4 separate regions of the Homo sapiens genome follow, and regions 1, 2 and 3 are each reported to be linked to region 4. Evidence: microRNA targets listed by miRTarBase, many of them from high-throughput screens and not tested one by one. Region 4 holds a microRNA gene; each other region holds the end of a gene's coding sequence.
The links. Region 4 holds the annotated microRNA hsa-miR-4640-5p (UGGGCCAGGGAGCAGCUGGUGGG, at 2,958-2,980, shown strand). A microRNA usually pairs through its seed, bases 2 to 8, with sites in the 3' UTR of a target mRNA and lowers its output. Matches are read on the target gene's strand: a 7mer-m8 pairs with bases 2 to 8, a 7mer-A1 pairs with bases 2 to 7 and ends in A, and an 8mer does both.

Region 1: miRTarBase lists ZNF787 as a target of hsa-miR-4640-5p. Seed matches in the 3' UTR shown: 7mer-m8 at 1,052-1,058.
Region 2: miRTarBase lists LMBR1L as a target of hsa-miR-4640-5p. Seed matches in the 3' UTR shown: 8mer at 1,016-1,023.
Region 3: miRTarBase lists PHYHIP as a target of hsa-miR-4640-5p. Seed matches in the 3' UTR shown: 7mer-A1 at 765-771, 7mer-A1 at 2,068-2,074, 7mer-A1 at 2,117-2,123 and 7mer-m8 at 2,134-2,140.

Annotation. Positions count from the first base shown.
Region 1 is chr19:56,084,805-56,088,855 of GRCh38, reverse strand. ZNF787 (zinc finger protein 787) reads left to right here. Exons shown (of 3, transcript NM_001002836.4): 3 at 1-1,490. The coding sequence ends at 833. Among named protein-coding and RNA genes, the nearest start is that of LINC01864, 20 kb to the right of the region's middle. RefSeq lists enhancers at 1,909-2,508, 2,844-3,343, 3,344-3,845.
Region 2 is chr12:49,094,238-49,098,288 of GRCh38, reverse strand. It overlaps LMBR1L (limb development membrane protein 1 like), which reads left to right. Exons shown (of 17, transcript NM_018113.4): 16 at 184-345; 17 at 550-1,150. The coding sequence ends at 617. It overlaps DHH (desert hedgehog signaling molecule), which reads left to right and starts at 3,488. Exons shown (of 3, transcript NM_021044.4): 1 at 3,488-4,051. The coding sequence starts at 3,777. It overlaps DHH-AS1 (DHH antisense RNA 1), which reads right to left. Exons shown (of 4, transcript XR_007063295.1): 4 at 2,545-2,888.
Region 3 is chr8:22,217,890-22,221,940 of GRCh38, reverse strand. It overlaps PHYHIP (phytanoyl-CoA 2-hydroxylase interacting protein), which reads left to right. Exons shown (of 5, transcript NM_014759.5): 5 at 54-2,238. The coding sequence ends at 588. Among named protein-coding and RNA genes, the nearest start is that of PHYHIP, 12 kb to the left of the region's middle. RefSeq lists an enhancer at 1,227-1,927.
Region 4 is chr6:30,887,934-30,891,997 of GRCh38, forward strand. MIR4640 (microRNA 4640) reads left to right here and starts at 2,950; the gene lies at 2,950-3,039. DDR1 (discoidin domain receptor tyrosine kinase 1) reads left to right here. Exons shown (of 18, transcript NM_001297654.2): 2 at 755-881; 3 at 975-1,077; 4 at 1,269-1,497; 5 at 3,040-3,187; 6 at 3,447-3,546. The coding sequence starts at 797.

The DNA.
Region 1 (4,051 bases), not on the chromosome of region 4:
GCTCGCACCTGGTGCAGCACCGGCGCATCCACACGGGCGAGAAGCCCTACGCCTGCTTGGAGTGCGGCAAGCGCTTCAGCTGGAGCTCCAACCTCATGCAGCACCAGCGCATCCACACGGGCGAGAAGCCCTACACCTGCCCCGACTGCGGCCGCAGCTTCACTCAGAGCAAGAGCCTGGCCAAGCACCGGCGCTCGCACAGCGGCCTCAAGCCCTTCGTGTGCCCGCGCTGCGGCCGCGGCTTCAGCCAGCCCAAGAGCCTCGCGCGTCACCTGCGGCTGCACCCGGAGCTGTCGGGGCCTGGCGTGGCGGCCAAGGTGCTGGCGGCTAGCGTCCGGCGGGCCAAGGGGCCCGAAGAGGCGGTGGCGGCGGACGGCGAGATCGCCATCCCCGTGGGCGATGGCGAGGGCATCATCGTGGTGGGCGCGCCGGGCGAGGGGGCCGCGGCCGCGGCAGCCATGGCGGGCGCGGGGGCAAAGGCCGCGGGGCCCCGGTCGCGGCGCGCCCCGGCCCCCAAGCCGTACGTGTGTCTGGAGTGCGGGAAGGGCTTCGGGCACGGGGCCGGGCTCCTGGCGCACCAGCGGGCCCAGCACGGGGACGGGCTCGGGGCGGCGGGGGGCGAGGAGCCGGCCCACATCTGCGTGGAGTGCGGGGAGGGCTTCGTGCAGGGCGCCGCGCTCCGGAGACACAAGAAGATCCACGCGGTGGGCGCGCCCTCGGTCTGCAGCAGCTGCGGACAGAGCTACTACCGCGCGGGCGGGGAGGAGGAGGACGACGACGACGAGGCCGCGGGCGGGCGGTGCCCCGAGTGCCGCGGTGGGGAGGGCCGGTAGGGGAGGGGCCCGGGGGGGGGGGCGGGCAGGGCCCCTCGGGCTTGGCGGGAGCGACGACGTGCAAGACCAAGAGACCCAGGGAGAAGCGGACGGGGTGCGATGGACCCCGCGGCATCCCCGGCTCCCCGCCCTCCTCTGTCCCTGCGCCGTCCGTGGGGGGGCACTGGGGCGTATTAGGGCCCGTTCACTTCTCCGCCTCGAGACTCTGCCCCCTCAGCCTGGCCCGCCCTTCCTAAGTTATCGGCCTGCGAGCCGGAGAGACAATGGAGAGAACTGCAGAGGCCGAGTGGCGACCAGGCCCCAAGCGGAAGGCCATTTTCCCTGCTCTTCCTCAGTTGTCCGGGGCGGGGGTGGGGGGTGCTGCGAGGAATGGAGAAACCAGGCCCTTTAGAGGATCCCAGAGAGGGAAGAGAACCAGGGGCCCTTTTCTCTTTTAGAATTTTCTTTTAATCAGCCCACCTTTTGACTCCCCGCCCGCCCCAATCCATTATTTTTTTCTGCCTTCCGGGTCCCATCCTTAGAGCTCGAGTCGTTCCTTCCCCTCCTGGATTCCGGGTAGCAGAGGCAGCGCCGCAGGAGGCGGGTGCCCGTTTGTCCCAGGCCTGGGCGTGGTGGAGGAAGGGGTGCTGGAACAATAAACGGCACTATCCAAATGTCCCCCTCTGCGTGGTTCTTGAGTCCGGGAGGGAGAAGGGCAAGAGGGGTAAACGGAGGCTCTCGCCGGGGCATCAGCAGAGCGTCAGCCGCGCCCCGGGAGTGGCCCGTTGGGTCGCCCGCGGAGGGCTCTAGGCAGGGGGGCCTGTCCGCGGATATCCTCACTATGGTGCGGGCACTCACAGGGCCTGGGAGCTGCTTGTAGATGGGGCAGGGCGGACTGGTCAGGGCCAGGCCTGCCCGCTGCAGGGGAAGGAGCCCCCACGGCTTCTACCACCCTCTCACAGGGGCGGCTGGCTTCCTCCACTCCTATCGTGTGGCCCCCGCCCCTAACCCCAAAAGCACCCTCCTCCTGCCTCCAGCTTCTGGGGGAGACTCTGACTGCAAAGGGCGCACGTCCCCCTACCTGGGTCGTTCACGGGGCTGGTCCCGTGGTTGCGGCTCCCTGCGAAGGAGGCTGGGAGATGAGGTCCCGGCGGCTGCCGCTCCGGGGACAGGACCCCCCGCCCCCTACGGGAGGAGGATGGTGCGCTCAGCTGTCTCTGCTGCAGGGGCCAGGCAGACGAGCCAGCCAGGGGCTGGGGGAGAGGGCGGGTATGCCACAGTCCAGCCGAGCGCTTAGGGCATTTCAGGCAGTGCGCGTGCCCGAGGGGCTTGGTCCGGTAGAGCCGCTGCAGCCGCCCTGCCAGGTGAGCGCTGTTGTTCATGATCAGAAGGGGGCTCGACCATGGCGACTGGTTTCCTGGACCCACAGCCCAGGTCCTGAGGACCCATGTTCCTGGGGCCTTGGGAGGCCGCAGTGAGGGTCCCAAAGGGGTATTTTCAACCTGGCTGAAGGCTGCGATTACTCAGGAGCGATTGGAGGCGGCAAGCTGCAGGCGTCTTTGACTTGGGGGTTTCATAGTAGAGGGGGACTTGAAGGAGAAATTCGGATTTCCAGTTAGAGCCCTTAATCTGCCCTTTCACACCCTGATGTGCTTGAGGAGGGTCCTGGGGCCTCATCTGGAGGCAGGGGGTTTAGAAACCAGGGCCACTGATGGTCTACAGATCCTGGAGGATTTGTTAGAGGACTAGGGAGTGATTGTGGATCAAAAAAGCGTGTTCTCAAGTGGCCAGAGCCTTGCTTAGATAATTGGTATTGCATGTCAGTTTTTGAAATTTCAGGTCACTCGAAAGGAGGGGGTGAACCTTGGCAGTTCAGAGTGGGCTGGGTTAGCAAAGACTGAGGAAGCATTGCTCACTTCTCCTAGGGTCCTTCTGTGGAGCTCTGGCCTTGGGCACTTCTGGAGGCCTGGGAGGATGGGAGGTGCCCTGTCTGGTAGAATTGGCAGCTCGGTGCCCCATAAGTCGGGCACACTGAGTCTCGGGTCAGCCTCTTCTACCTGCTCCAGTATATGGTGGCAGGAGCTGACACCTATAGCAAGAAAGATTCAGGGCAAGTTTCCACCCTGCCCCTTAAGGCTGTGTGACCCTGGGCAAGTGGACTAACCTCTCTGACCCTTGGCTTCCTGCCCTGTGGAAAGGAGAGCTTGCCTGCCTGCCTTGTATGACTGTGTGTGGAGGGGGGAATCCCCAAGCCATGTGTTAACTCACTGGAGCTGCCCTCCCAGGCATGAGCAAAGATGCAGGGGCGAGGAGCCAGGCTCAAATCCCAGCTCTGCACTACTCATCCCACTTTGTAATACAGAACTGAGCGAGCTCACATGACCACCTTGACATCAGCCTGCACCGGACCCAACACCTGACCTGTGCTTTGGTGTCACACGCTGTCCGTTACTGATTCATGCACTCAGGTAGTCATTGCCCACCCCTCACTCACTCATTCTACAAATGTGTTTTGGGCAGCAGCTCCGTGCCCAGTAGGCACGGCGTGGGTCCCAGGTAAAGAAAGGAACATGGGTTCTTGTGGCACTTGCCGTCGGCCCTGTAGTTCACCTGCATTGGAGCTGCTCACCCACGGCAAGGTGAGGCTAGGCGGCCGCTCCATGCTCACAAACCCACCCTGGCAGTGACCGCAGAAGTTCCTTCGGCCCCCATTCCTCTCATGCTCACTTTGGTGGAGGGCACGCCCAGACTCGTTCACGCCCCTTACGGAGTCCAGTCCTCACAAAGGCCCTGTGTGGTTGCCATCATTCCTCGGCTGCTGCTGCTGAAGCTGGTACGAGGAGAGGAAGCAGCCTGCCCAGGCTACTGGTTTGTAAAGTGGTAGAACCTTAATCTGGATCTAAAGTCCTGACACCCATGCCCCCCACCCCCGGCCCCCTGCTGAGTTGATAATCCACTTAATCTTAGGTGTTTATCGGGCACTTCTTTCCTGTGAGGGACTCTGCTAAGCATGGGGGCACAGCAGTGACCTCAACAGGCACAAATCTCTGCTGTCATGGGGGCTGGGAGGGGATACACACAGCTAAGGGCTGAAGGGACAAAAAGAGGCTCTCAGGAGGCAGGAGGTGGAGGAGTCCTGGGCAGGGGGCAGGTGTGACAGGCAATCCCAGGGGGAGTGAGGGCCAGACAGGTGAGTGGAAAGGGACCCTCCACCCAGCTTACTCCCCAGCCTGAAGGCA
Region 2 (4,051 bases), not on the chromosome of region 4:
CTAGCTGCTGGCACTTAGAACAGTCCCGAACTGCTCTTGAGACAGCTTGGGTGGTAGAATTGGGAGAGGCCAACCTATCAGTTGCAGTGTTGAAATGTGGCCACCAGGAGGCAGCAGAAAGTTGGGCTGGTAGCAGAAAAGGGCCTGGGGAGCCCACCTCTCATCCTGGCCTTTGTGCTTCAGGGCTCACTCGCTTTGACCTGCTGGGTGACTTTGGACGCTTCAACTGGCTGGGCAATTTCTACATTGTGTTCCTCTACAACGCAGCCTTTGCAGGCCTCACCACACTCTGTCTGGTGAAGACCTTCACTGCAGCTGTGCGGGCAGAGCTGATCCGGGCCTTTGGTGAGAGGGAGTGAGGGTGCAGGCTAGTGGGGGGTGGTAATCATCTAGGACACTCTGGAACATGGATCACCCCAGCAGGGGAGAGGGTGTGCTTCCTGCTTTGTGGGTAACGTACCTCATCCACACATTCTGTGGCTTGGCTGCCTGGTCCCTAACGGACTGGACCTTTGACTTGCTTTTGACTGCCCATCTCCTCTTCTCCAGGGCTGGACAGACTGCCGCTGCCCGTCTCCGGTTTCCCCCAGGCATCTAGGAAGACCCAGCACCAGTGACCTCCAGCTGGGGGTGGGAAGGAAAAAACTGGACACTGCCATCTGCTGCCTAGGCCTGGAGGGAAGCCCAAGGCTACTTGGACCTCAGGACCTGGAATCTGAGAGGGTGGGTGGCAGAGGGGAGCAGAGCCATCTGCACTATTGCATAATCTGAGCCAGAGTTTGGGACCAGGACCTCCTGCTTTTCCATACTTAACTGTGGCCTCAGCATGGGGTAGGGCTGGGTGACTGGGTCTAGCCCCTGATCCCAAATCTGTTTACACATCAATCTGCCTCACTGCTGTTCTGGGCCATCCCCATAGCCATGTTTACATGATTTGATGTGCAATAGGGTGGGGTAGGGGCAGGGAAAGGACTGGGCCAGGGCAGGCTCGGGAGATAGATTGTCTCCCTTGCCTCTGGCCCAGCAGAGCCTAAGCACTGTGCTATCCTGGAGGGGCTTTGGACCACCTGAAAGACCAAGGGGATAGGGAGGAGGAGGCTTCAGCCATCAGCAATAAAGTTGATCCCAGGGTTTGCTTTGTTTTTTTAAAGCACCTGTCTCTGTGTATATTTGAACAGCCTTGCTCCCACCAGCCCGGCGTCTGCCCAGTAAGAGAAGCAGAGGGGTCCTGCCCACCATCCTTTTCCTTCCCCTTCATCTATATTATTACCATCCTTTGGGGACTTGGATCTGGTGTTAGGCCATGCAGTTGGGCAGTGGGAAACTCCTCCATCCTCAGTCTTGCTTAAAGCTGGCTTGTCCCCTGACTCCTCCTTATATTCATGGCCTTGTTTCTGTACCTTGAGTATTGGGGGTAGGACATGGGCATAGGAGTAGGCTAACCTCCCCGATACACTCATACCTTCAGCCCTATCCTCCCTGGCTTAACTATTGGATATAGAGTAAAATAAGTGGCTGGCTGACAAGGATTTTCATTTCCTACCTGAGAGAAGAATCTAGCTTTTTACTAGAGGCCATCAGTTTCTTGAAAAGCCCATGTGCTATGTTGGGAGTAAGAGCGCAAAACTTAGGCTTATACAGATTGTGTATTGCACAGCTTCCAGGGACACCATTCACCTCATAGTCATTGTGTGGATAGTTACTATGATAGTTTTCTAATAAATGTCAGTCATCTTGAGGAAGGGGTGCTTTTTTTTTCTTTTTTCTTCTTCTTTTTTTTTTTTTTTTTTTTGTGAGACAAGGTCTGGCTCTATCACCCTGGCTGGAGTGCAGTGGTGCAATCTCAGCTCACTGCAACCTCCGCATTCTGGGCTCAAGCCATTCTTCCAGCTCAGGCTCCAGAATAGCTAGGACAACAGACACATGCTACCATGCCTGGCTAATTTTTGTATTTTTAGTAGAGATGGGGTTTTGCCATGTTGCCTGGGCTGGTCTTGAACTCCTGAGCTCAAGTGATCCACCTACCTTGGACTCCCCAAATGATGGAATTACAGGGGTTAGCCACAACACCCAGCCATCTTTTTTTTGGGGGGGGGGGTCCTCACTCTGTCACCCAGGTTAGAGTGCAGTGGCATGATCTTAGCTCACTCTACAGCCTTGAACTCTTGCACCCAAGTGATCCTCCTTCCTCAGCCTCCTGAGTACCTAAGACTACAGGCATGTACCACTACCTCCCACTAATTAATTTTTTTTTTTTGAAACGGGGTGTCACTATGTTGACCAAGTTGGTCTTCAACTCATGGCCTCAAGCAGTCCTTGCCTCGCCCCCAAAGTGTTGGGATTACAGGAGTGAGCCACTGTGCCTGGCCTGGTTTTTTCTGATGTACACAAAGTTGCTATGAGTACTAGCCATAGAGTGTGGTGAGGGGAGGGTGAATATGAAACACAAAGTGTAGATTCCACAAATGCTTGCAAAGCACCCTTCTGTAGAGTAGGCACTTAACCTTGGAGATACATGATAAATATGTGTGTGCTTAAGATTGCTTTGTCTAGTAAGGTGCCAGATAATTCTAATACTGTTCTAACACTGCAGTTAAGTAATGGTTCTCGAGGGAACACAGGTGGGCAGTGTTGGGACATCAAGGAAGGCTTCTTAGAAGAAATGACTTCTAAACAAAAGAAATTGGACGTGGTGCCTCTGAGATGAGATCTGAGTGGCTGAAAATGGAGCCCCGGGAGTCCAGAGAGGGAGAAAGCTGGAGAGGTGCCTAGATGGACGGTTAAGGGAAGTGATCCTCACCTCTTACAAAGACTTTTGAGTGTCCACTGCCCTTCAGCAGCTTCCAACTGAGAAGTCATTCATTTGAAAAACAGCAGCTATTAGATGCCTGGCAAAGAAGAGAAGGGGAAAAAAGTTGGAAGTCCTAAATGAGACAATAAGTACCAAGCTCTGTTCCTGGTTCTGGGGAAGTTCCAAAGGAGACTGCAAAGTTAGTAGAGAAATGGGCCCCTGGTATCCTCACCTCCCAGTCCTGCTTAATGCTGAATGTGAGGAGAGATGGAAGTCGGGGAGATCTGGGGAGGACTACAGAGAAGGGAGGCTCTGGTTGTATGCCCAAAGGGCTTGGCTGGTCTTGGGCAGAAATTGGAACCCATACTTCCTGGATGACAGCGGAGGGCATGGCCTGCCAGGGTAGGCTTTGAGAGAGTAAAAATTCCAATTCAAGTATCAGAGGAGGGTGGTTTGGTTCCAAGTTTAAGCTTGGAGGTAGAAGGATGTTTAGGCAGCCAAGGACTGTAAAGCTACAAGTATTTCCTAGGCAGGTGTCTGCCTGGTTTCCAGGATGGGACACACTTCAGTCGCAAAATGGACCAGCAGTGACCGGCTAGATCCCCCGCCCGGGTGGGAGGGGGTGGGACGGTCTTGGGAGAAGGGCGGAGGGCGGGGCCAGGGGCCACTTAAGGCGGAGTCCGGAGTCCGGGCGTTCTGGCAGCACCAGAGTCCTGCAGCAGAGACGGGCTGGGCTGGCACTCACCCACGACCCCCCTTCCCTGCTATGATGGTTTGTCAGTAGCAGGTCCTAGACACCCCCCGCCCGCTCCCGGGGCACGTGGGCAGAGCTAGCAGCAGCCAGGTGCACGGAGCCACAAGAGCTCTAGGGCACTCTGGGGGCAGCTGTGCCTGCTGCCCTCTCTGGTGCCTGTGGAGATGCCTAACTGACAGGAGAGTTAGTGAGGACAAGAACGCTCCCTTTTGGCCGAGGTCCGCTGTATCCATGGCTCTCCTGACCAATCTACTGCCCCTGTGCTGCTTGGCACTTCTGGCGCTGCCAGCCCAGAGCTGCGGGCCGGGCCGGGGGCCGGTTGGCCGGCGCCGCTATGCGCGCAAGCAGCTCGTGCCGCTACTCTACAAGCAATTTGTGCCCGGCGTGCCAGAGCGGACCCTGGGCGCCAGTGGGCCAGCGGAGGGGAGGGTGGCAAGGGGCTCCGAGCGCTTCCGGGACCTCGTGCCCAACTACAACCCCGACATCATCTTCAAGGATGAGGAGAA
Region 3 (4,051 bases), not on the chromosome of region 4:
GCTCACCAGCCACATCTTCTCTTCCCTTTGGTGTGTCTCCCTGGGGTGGGCAGGACCCACTGCGGGAACATGCTGCAGCCTTACCTGAAGGACAACAGTGGCAGCCACGGCTCCCCCACCAGCGGTATGCTCCACGGGGTCTTCTTCAGCTGCAACACGGAGTTCAACACGGGCCAGCCCCCGCAGGACTCCCCCTACGGCCGCTGGCGCTTCCAGATCCCAGCTCAGCGCCTCTTCAATCCCAGCACCAACCTCTACTTTGCGGACTTCTACTGCATGTACACGGCCTACCACTACGCCATCCTGGTGCTGGCGCCCAAAGGCTCCCTGGGGGACCGCTTCTGCCGCGACCGCCTGCCCCTCCTGGACATTGCTTGCAACAAGTTCCTGACCTGCAGCGTGGAGGATGGGGAGCTGGTCTTCCGCCACGCCCAGGACCTCATCCTGGAGATCATCTACACTGAGCCCGTCGACCTGTCCCTGGGCACCCTGGGGGAGATCAGTGGGCACCAGCTCATGAGTCTGTCTACTGCCGATGCCAAGAAGGACCCCAGCTGCAAGACCTGCAACATCAGCGTGGGCCGCTAGGGACTCCTGGGGAGCTGGGGGGCGAGGGAGAGATGAGCGGAAGGTGGAGGTGGGTAGCCCAGGTTCAGGGAGCTGGCTTTCTCTCTCCTGCCCCCCTGCTCCCTCCACTCTGCCCAGCTGCCCTCCCCTCGCCCCTTGGCATTGGAGGCAACAGACGGTGGTCCTCTTGGTAAGTGTGGCCCACACCCAGCCTGGTGGACATGGAAAGGCTTCTCAGCCTCTGTAGTTGGCAGCTGGGCTGGACTTCTGGAGAACTTCCCCTTTCCTCTGGTTTCCTTGTCCTACTGTTCTTTGCCTCGTCCAGGTCTCTATCTCCCAAAGACCTGCCCACCTCCTGGGCTCTCCCAGGGAAGCCCCTCTGGGCCAAAGCCCATGGGTAGCTTGGCTGCCTCCAGAAGAGATGCAGAGAGCTGTGGGGCGATCTTTCTTAGTCCCACTCACCCCACTCAGGGCCAACCACAGAATGCCCCCTCCCTGCTGAGCTGGGTCTCTGGGGCTTCCCACTCCAGGCCTGGATCCCTTCCTTCTATAAATAGTCTCCTGCACCACCGTGACTCCCTGGCTGCTCCTTGCCCCAAAGAACCCTCTTCCTGCATGGGAGAGCTGTCCCTCCTTCTCCACCTGCCCACCGGGACACTCCCCCTGCTCTCTAGAAAGGAACTCTCTTTCTTCTCTTGGCACTGGGGGCGTCAGGCTGTCGGATGTTCCTTCCTTCCATACCCCAGCATACCTTCTCCTTGCTTAGAGTGCAGGGGTCTGAGACAGCAGCCACTGGGGTTGAGGAGGGGGAGGAGACCCCTGAGACCCAGAGGTGCCCCTTCCTCAGCTGGGAGTGGGCCGCCTCATGCTCTGCTGGGGCCTGGCATGGAACGTGAGACCTGTAAGCTGTCCCGCGGGCCCCGGCACCCCGCCCAGCTGTGCACTTTGCTCACTCGCTCTGCCATGGTGCCATGACTGTACTGTGCCCATGCGTGACCTGGACTGTGGACCCTCTGCTGCTCCGCCTCTCCCCTCCCCACTGGCTCTGTCTGCTCTCCTGCCACCCTGCTGGCCGGGAGCCCCTCCCCGGGGAGTTCTTGGTGAAGTCCTTCCCGGGCCTCCTTGTGTTTTTGCCTCATTCCTACTGTCACACAGGTCACGAGGGTGGACTCCCTACAATCAACAAAGCAAACAGAGAGCCTGTGGGAGGGGCTGACAGCAGCAGCCGGCTGTTTGGGGGATGATGGAGGTGACATCAGGCAGAGGAGAGTGCAGCCTCACAGTGACTTTCTCAGAGGTGACAGAGATGATGGATGAGCAGCTGGATTTTCGTGATGAAGGACGGAAGCAGCAGCGGGCCGGCAAGGCCATACCTCGGTGAGGGACAGGTGGACAACGGTCACCTATCTGTAGCCAGGGGCAGTTGTGTGGCCAGCTGTCTCTCTGGGATGAGTCAGGAGGCCTGGAGGCTTGGGGAGAGGTGTGGAGAAGGAGAGAACATGGCCCAGGCCCTTTCCTTCCCCCTGTGCTGACAGCATTGCTGTGGGGGTGGCCCACTGCCCTCCCCTGGCCCTCATGTCCCCCCGGGGCTGGGGTCCGCCTGCCTGTGCTGTGCTTGCGACGTGCATCAATAAACCACCATGGCCTGAGGGCCCTGCTCGTCTCAGTCCATTTGAGCTGCTGTAACAAAATACCACACATTGGGTGGCTCAGAAACCGCAGATTCATTTCTCATAGATCAAGGTGCTGGCAGAAGCGGTGTCTGGTGAGGGCCTGCTTCACAGATGGCTCTTTTCACTGTGTCCTCACAGGGTGAAAGGGACTAGCAAGCTCTCTTGCCCCTCCTTTTTTTTTTTTGTAGACATGGGGAATTTCACCTTGTTGCCCAGGCTGGCCTCAAACTCCTGGCCTCAAGTGATCCTCCCACCTGCTTGGCCTCCCAAGGTGCTTGGGATTACAGGCATGAGCCACTGCTCTGGGCCATCTTGGGCCCCTTTCATAAAGGCACTAATCCCATTCATGTGGCCCCACCCTCATGACCTCATCGCCTTCCAAGGCCCTGCTTCCTAAAACTATCACCTTGGGGTTAGAATTTCCACCTAGAGCTGGGTGAGGTGGCTCACGCCTGTAATCCCAGCATTTTGGGAGGCTGAGGCAGGTGGATCAGTGGAGGTCAGGGGTTCAAGACCAGCCTGGCCAATATGGTGAAACCCTGTCTCTACTAAAAATACAAAATTAGCTGGGCGTGGTGGTGCATGCCTGTAATCCTAGCTACTGAGGAGCCTGAGGCAGGAGAATTGCTTGAACCTAGGAGGCGGAGGTTGCAGCAAGCCGAGATTGCGCCATTGCACTCCAGCCTGGGTTACAGAGTGAGACTCCATCTCAAAAAAAAAAAAAAAAAAAAAAAAAAAAAGTCAACCTAGGATTTAGGGGGGACACAAACATTCAGACCATAGCACCCCATCCCTTTGGGCCAGTGATGGTATGGGTGAGTTCTGCAAACCACAGAGGAGCTCAGGTGGGAATGCCCCCAGGACAGGCGACCTGAAATCAGCTCCAAGGGAGCACCTCGTCCATTGTGGGAGGCGGGGCTCAGGATGTAGAGCTGAGTCTCCAGCTTGGAAGGGACTTTGGAGTCTTTTGGTCCCACCCAGTGTTTCCCATATGGGGCCTCCCACATGGGGCGTCCTAGGAGAGGACTCACAGCATCTGGAGGCCCCGTTTGGAGCTTTTGAAGCCTTCCTACTACAGCAGCTTGCCATTGCTCCAGACCCAGATGCCACCAAATGTCCCTGTCCCAAGTGCCTGAGTGTCCCCGCTCCCCAACACAGCTCCCGTTTATAGATCCCAGTCACCTCTGCATCTATCATTTTATTATTATCATTATCATTATTATTTTTGAGATGGAGCCTCGCTCTGTCACCCAGGCTGGAGTGCAGTGGCACGATCTTGGCTCAGTGTAACTTCCACCTCCCAGGTTCAAGCAATTCTCCAGCCTCAGCCTCCCACGTAGCTGGGACTACAGGTACATGCCACCATGCCTGGATAATTTTTGTATTTTTAATAGAGATGAGCTTTCACCATGTTGGCCAGGCTGGTCTCGAACCCCTGACCTCAAGTGATCCACCCACCTCAGCCTCCCAAAGTGCTGGGATTACAGGCATGAGCGAGCCACTGTGCCTGGCCATTATTTTTATTTCTTGAGACAGGGTCTTCCTCTGTTGTCCAGACTGGAGTGCAGTGGCACGATCATGGTTCACTGCAGCCTCAACCTCTGGGGCCCAAGTGATCCTCCCACCTCAGCCTCCAGAGTAGTTGGGACCACAGGCGTACACCACCATGCCCAGCTAGGTTTTTTAACATTTTTTATTTTGTAGAGATGGAGTTTCCCTGTGTTGCCCAGGCTGGTCTCAAACTCCTGGGCTTAAGTGATCCTCCTGCCTCCCAAAGTGCTGGGATTACAGGCTTGAGTCACTGCACCTGG
Region 4 (4,064 bases):
CTCGAGGGAATGCTGGGTCGAAGAGGATGTGCATTTTTAATTATAATAGACATTGCTAGATTGCTTTCCAAATAGAAGATAACACTCATTTCTGCCATTGAGCATGGTGCCTCCCTTTTCATCACTTTCTACCACTTTTATATGTTACAGCCTTAAAAAAATATCTTGTCAGTCTGCTTGGTATTTCCCTGAGGCTGGTGAATTTGACCATTAAAAAAAATGTTTGTTGGCAATTTGGCTTTGCTTTTCTGTGAAATGACTATTCACATTCTTTGGCTGTTTCTTTATTGGGTTACTTATATATTTTTTCTTGTCAGTTCCTAAGGGGCCTTAGTTTATTGTAGTTATTAAACCTTTTCCTGTTGTATGTGTTATAAACATTTTTTGCACACTTGTTGTTTGTTCTAAGCCGTTGTTTATGGGGATATTTTGCCCATTCCTGATTGGAGAAATGGGGCTTTAGGAAGTTATTTAACTGATCTCTGCCCTAGTTTCTTCATGTGTTAAATATGGATAGTAATAGTATCTACCTTATGAAGTGACTGTGAAGATAAAATTATGGATTCTGTTTAAGGGTTTAGGCCAGTGTCTGGCACAGGGGAAGCATTCTAAAAATATAGCTGATGCTGTTAAACAATGACTGTTGTTGTTGTTTTACTGTTATTATCCCCAAAGCGGCCCATTCTGTCTGTTGCTGTCAGCTATGACTCAGTCCCCTGATTAACTTACGCACCACCCATTTTATCCCCTGCAGAGATGCTGCCCCCACCCCCTTAGGCCCGAGGGATCAGGAGCTATGGGACCAGAGGCCCTGTCATCTTTACTGCTGCTGCTCTTGGTGGCAAGTGGAGATGCTGACATGAAGGGACATTTTGATCCTGGTGAGGAGACTGAATCATGGGTCCCTGAGGGCCAGGGCTTGGGAGGTAGAGAGTTGGGGGCCTTGACCTGTTACATGCCTGCTTTTTACTCAGCCAAGTGCCGCTATGCCCTGGGCATGCAGGACCGGACCATCCCAGACAGTGACATCTCTGCTTCCAGCTCCTGGTCAGATTCCACTGCCGCCCGCCACAGCAGGTACTTGGCACACCTGGCACACTTGTAGCTGCCCCGAGAGGAGCTCCTGGGACCTCTACTTCCCCTCCAACCCCTCTGCCCATGCCAGTGAAACCCCTGCAGGCTGAGGGGGCAAATGAAGTGGGGTTTAAATACTGGAGATGGAGGCAGACCTGGGGCCAGATGTTCTCTGTGCCCCTCTTCACCCTCAGGTTGGAGAGCAGTGACGGGGATGGGGCCTGGTGCCCCGCAGGGTCGGTGTTTCCCAAGGAGGAGGAGTACTTGCAGGTGGATCTACAACGACTGCACCTGGTGGCTCTGGTGGGCACCCAGGGACGGCATGCCGGGGGCCTGGGCAAGGAGTTCTCCCGGAGCTACCGGCTGCGTTACTCCCGGGATGGTCGCCGCTGGATGGGCTGGAAGGACCGCTGGGGTCAGGAGGTGAGACTGGCAGGGGCAGCACCCAGAGGAGGTTGGCTCTCCTCACTTCCAGCTGTACTTTAAACACCACCTATACGCTGACGACTCTCCAGTTTATATCATCTCCAGACTAAGCCTCTCAGCTGAGCTCCAAACAATATTGTAAACCTGGCCACCTTTTGGATTTCTCCACTTAGATGTCTTTTTTTTTTTTTCTAATAGATGGGGTCTTGCTGTGTTGCCCAGGCTGGTCTTGAACTCCTGGGCTCAGTGATCCTCCCACCTTAGCCTCCCAAAGTGCTGGGATTACAAGCACTGTAGCCAGCCACCTAGATGTCTAATAGGCATCTCAAACGTACGTTTAACTTCCCAAGCTGAATTTGATTCCCATTCCCAGCCTAAACCTGCTCCTCCCCTGGCATTCTCCAGCTCAGGAAGTGGTATCACCATTGCCTGGTTGCCTAGGCTATAAGTTAAGATGATATCCTTGATTCCTTTTTTTCTCTCACCTCCTTCCAAAGCATCAGCAGCCCCGTCTGTTCTACCTCCATAGTGTTCCTGAGTCCAGTCACTCCTCACCACTCCACCTCTACTGCCCTAGGCCACCTGCCCGCCATCTCCAGCTTAGATGAGTGCAGTAGATGCCAAACGCGTCTCCCTGCTTCTGCCCTTTTCTGCCTGGAGTCAAATCTCCACCTGGGGGGGCGGCATCCAGTGGACCTTAGAGCATGTAAATCAGATACGTCACACCTAGCTGACACCCCCATGCTGGCTTTCCACTCTGCCAGAACAAAAGCTGAGTCCCTAGCTGGTGCAGGATGCTCAGCCTGACCTGGCTCCTGCCTGCATCACTTGTTTCTTGGCGCCTCCTTGGCCACGCTGCCTTTCTTCTTGTTGCTGGAACAAGCCAGGGCTCGTTCCCACAGCTTCTGGACATTTTCTCTGTGCCTGCAAAGCTCCTCCCCTAAATAACCACAGGCTCTCCCTCACTCCATTCAGTTCTCTGCCAGGTGTCACCTCCTTAGAGAGCCTTTTCTGGCCACCCACCTCACTGCTCTGTCCATACTTCCTGCCTCTTGTTCTTCGCAGCTGTTTTCCCTGCTGGGATCTCAGTCCTACAAGGGTGGGGAGTGACGTTCACCACTGAGAACGCGCCTGGCACAGAGCGGGCACTCAGCCAACTTCTGCTGAATGAACAGAGGGAATGGGCTGAAATGAAGGGGAAGCTGAGGCAGGGGTGCAGGGCTGTGAGGATTGGGGAGAATCTGGGCACAATGGGATGATAGGCTTGGAGACAAATGGATGGAGCCAGGCAAGGAGAAGAGGGCAGCTGAGCCTGAAGTCTGAGGATGGAACATCAGAGCTGCGACAGAGCCAGAGGTCTCAGCTGCAGATCTTCATTTCACCCATGCCTGGCTGCGCCCCACAGTGCTGTGTGCTCGGTGCCACCCCTCATGGGTCTCTAAGTGGCCACTGTGGGCTGGGCCAGGGAGCAGCTGGTGGGTGGGAAGTAAGATCTGACCTGGACTCCATCCCACCCACCCCCTGTTTCCTGGCCCACAGGTGATCTCAGGCAATGAGGACCCTGAGGGAGTGGTGCTGAAGGACCTTGGGCCCCCCATGGTTGCCCGACTGGTTCGCTTCTACCCCCGGGCTGACCGGGTCATGAGCGTCTGTCTGCGGGTAGAGCTCTATGGCTGCCTCTGGAGGGGTGAGTGGCTCAGCTTCCTGGGAATCTGTTTCCTGAGCAGGGGACTGGAGGGTGGGGAGTGTGGAGAATGGGCATCCAGGATCCCTTCTCCTGCTGGGAAGCTGTCACTCTGAGGAGGGGGCTAGCCAGCATTGTCTCCTCCATGCCAATGAGCCAGTGGAGAGATACAAGAAGGGACCTGAAACCTGCCCAGGCCTGATGCAGGGATGGGGGATGGAGCCTTAGTGCCTCTGACCCCCATCCTCTCACCCTGCCCCAGATGGACTCCTGTCTTACACCGCCCCTGTGGGGCAGACAATGTATTTATCTGAGGCCGTGTACCTCAACGACTCCACCTATGACGGACATACCGTGGGCGGGTAAGAAAGGCCCCTGCAGGATATGGAGTTTGGGGTGGGAGGGAGGACTGTGTGTGTGTGTGTGTGTGTGTGTGTGTGAGAGTGTGTGTGTGTAGGGGGGCTGGTAAGTAGGGTGGGGAGTGAGATGGAAGAGCTGAGAAGAGGGATGGGTTAGGTGGGGCCTCAAAGGGTAGCACTAGGGTGACCACTAGCCCGTATGACACTGTATGAAAAAGGCACCCCTTTGCTAACACACATTGTTGGAAATTGCTGCAATAAATATACACATCATAGATTGAAATGGTGCCCCTTAGAGGTGGTGCCTTTGTGCTGGATGTGACCTGCAAGGTACCTGTAGTGCTGGGGTGGGGTGGAGAGAGGAGAAGGGCCAGCTGCATGAGTGTGAGGTGGGATGGGAATGGGACTAGTGGATGGGAGCCAGGCTGGCCATGCCACTGTGCCGGAGGGTGGCGGAGCAGAATGCCTGGATGTCAAGACCCTCTTCCCTTCCAACCTCCTCTTCCTTGGTCCCCTCTTCT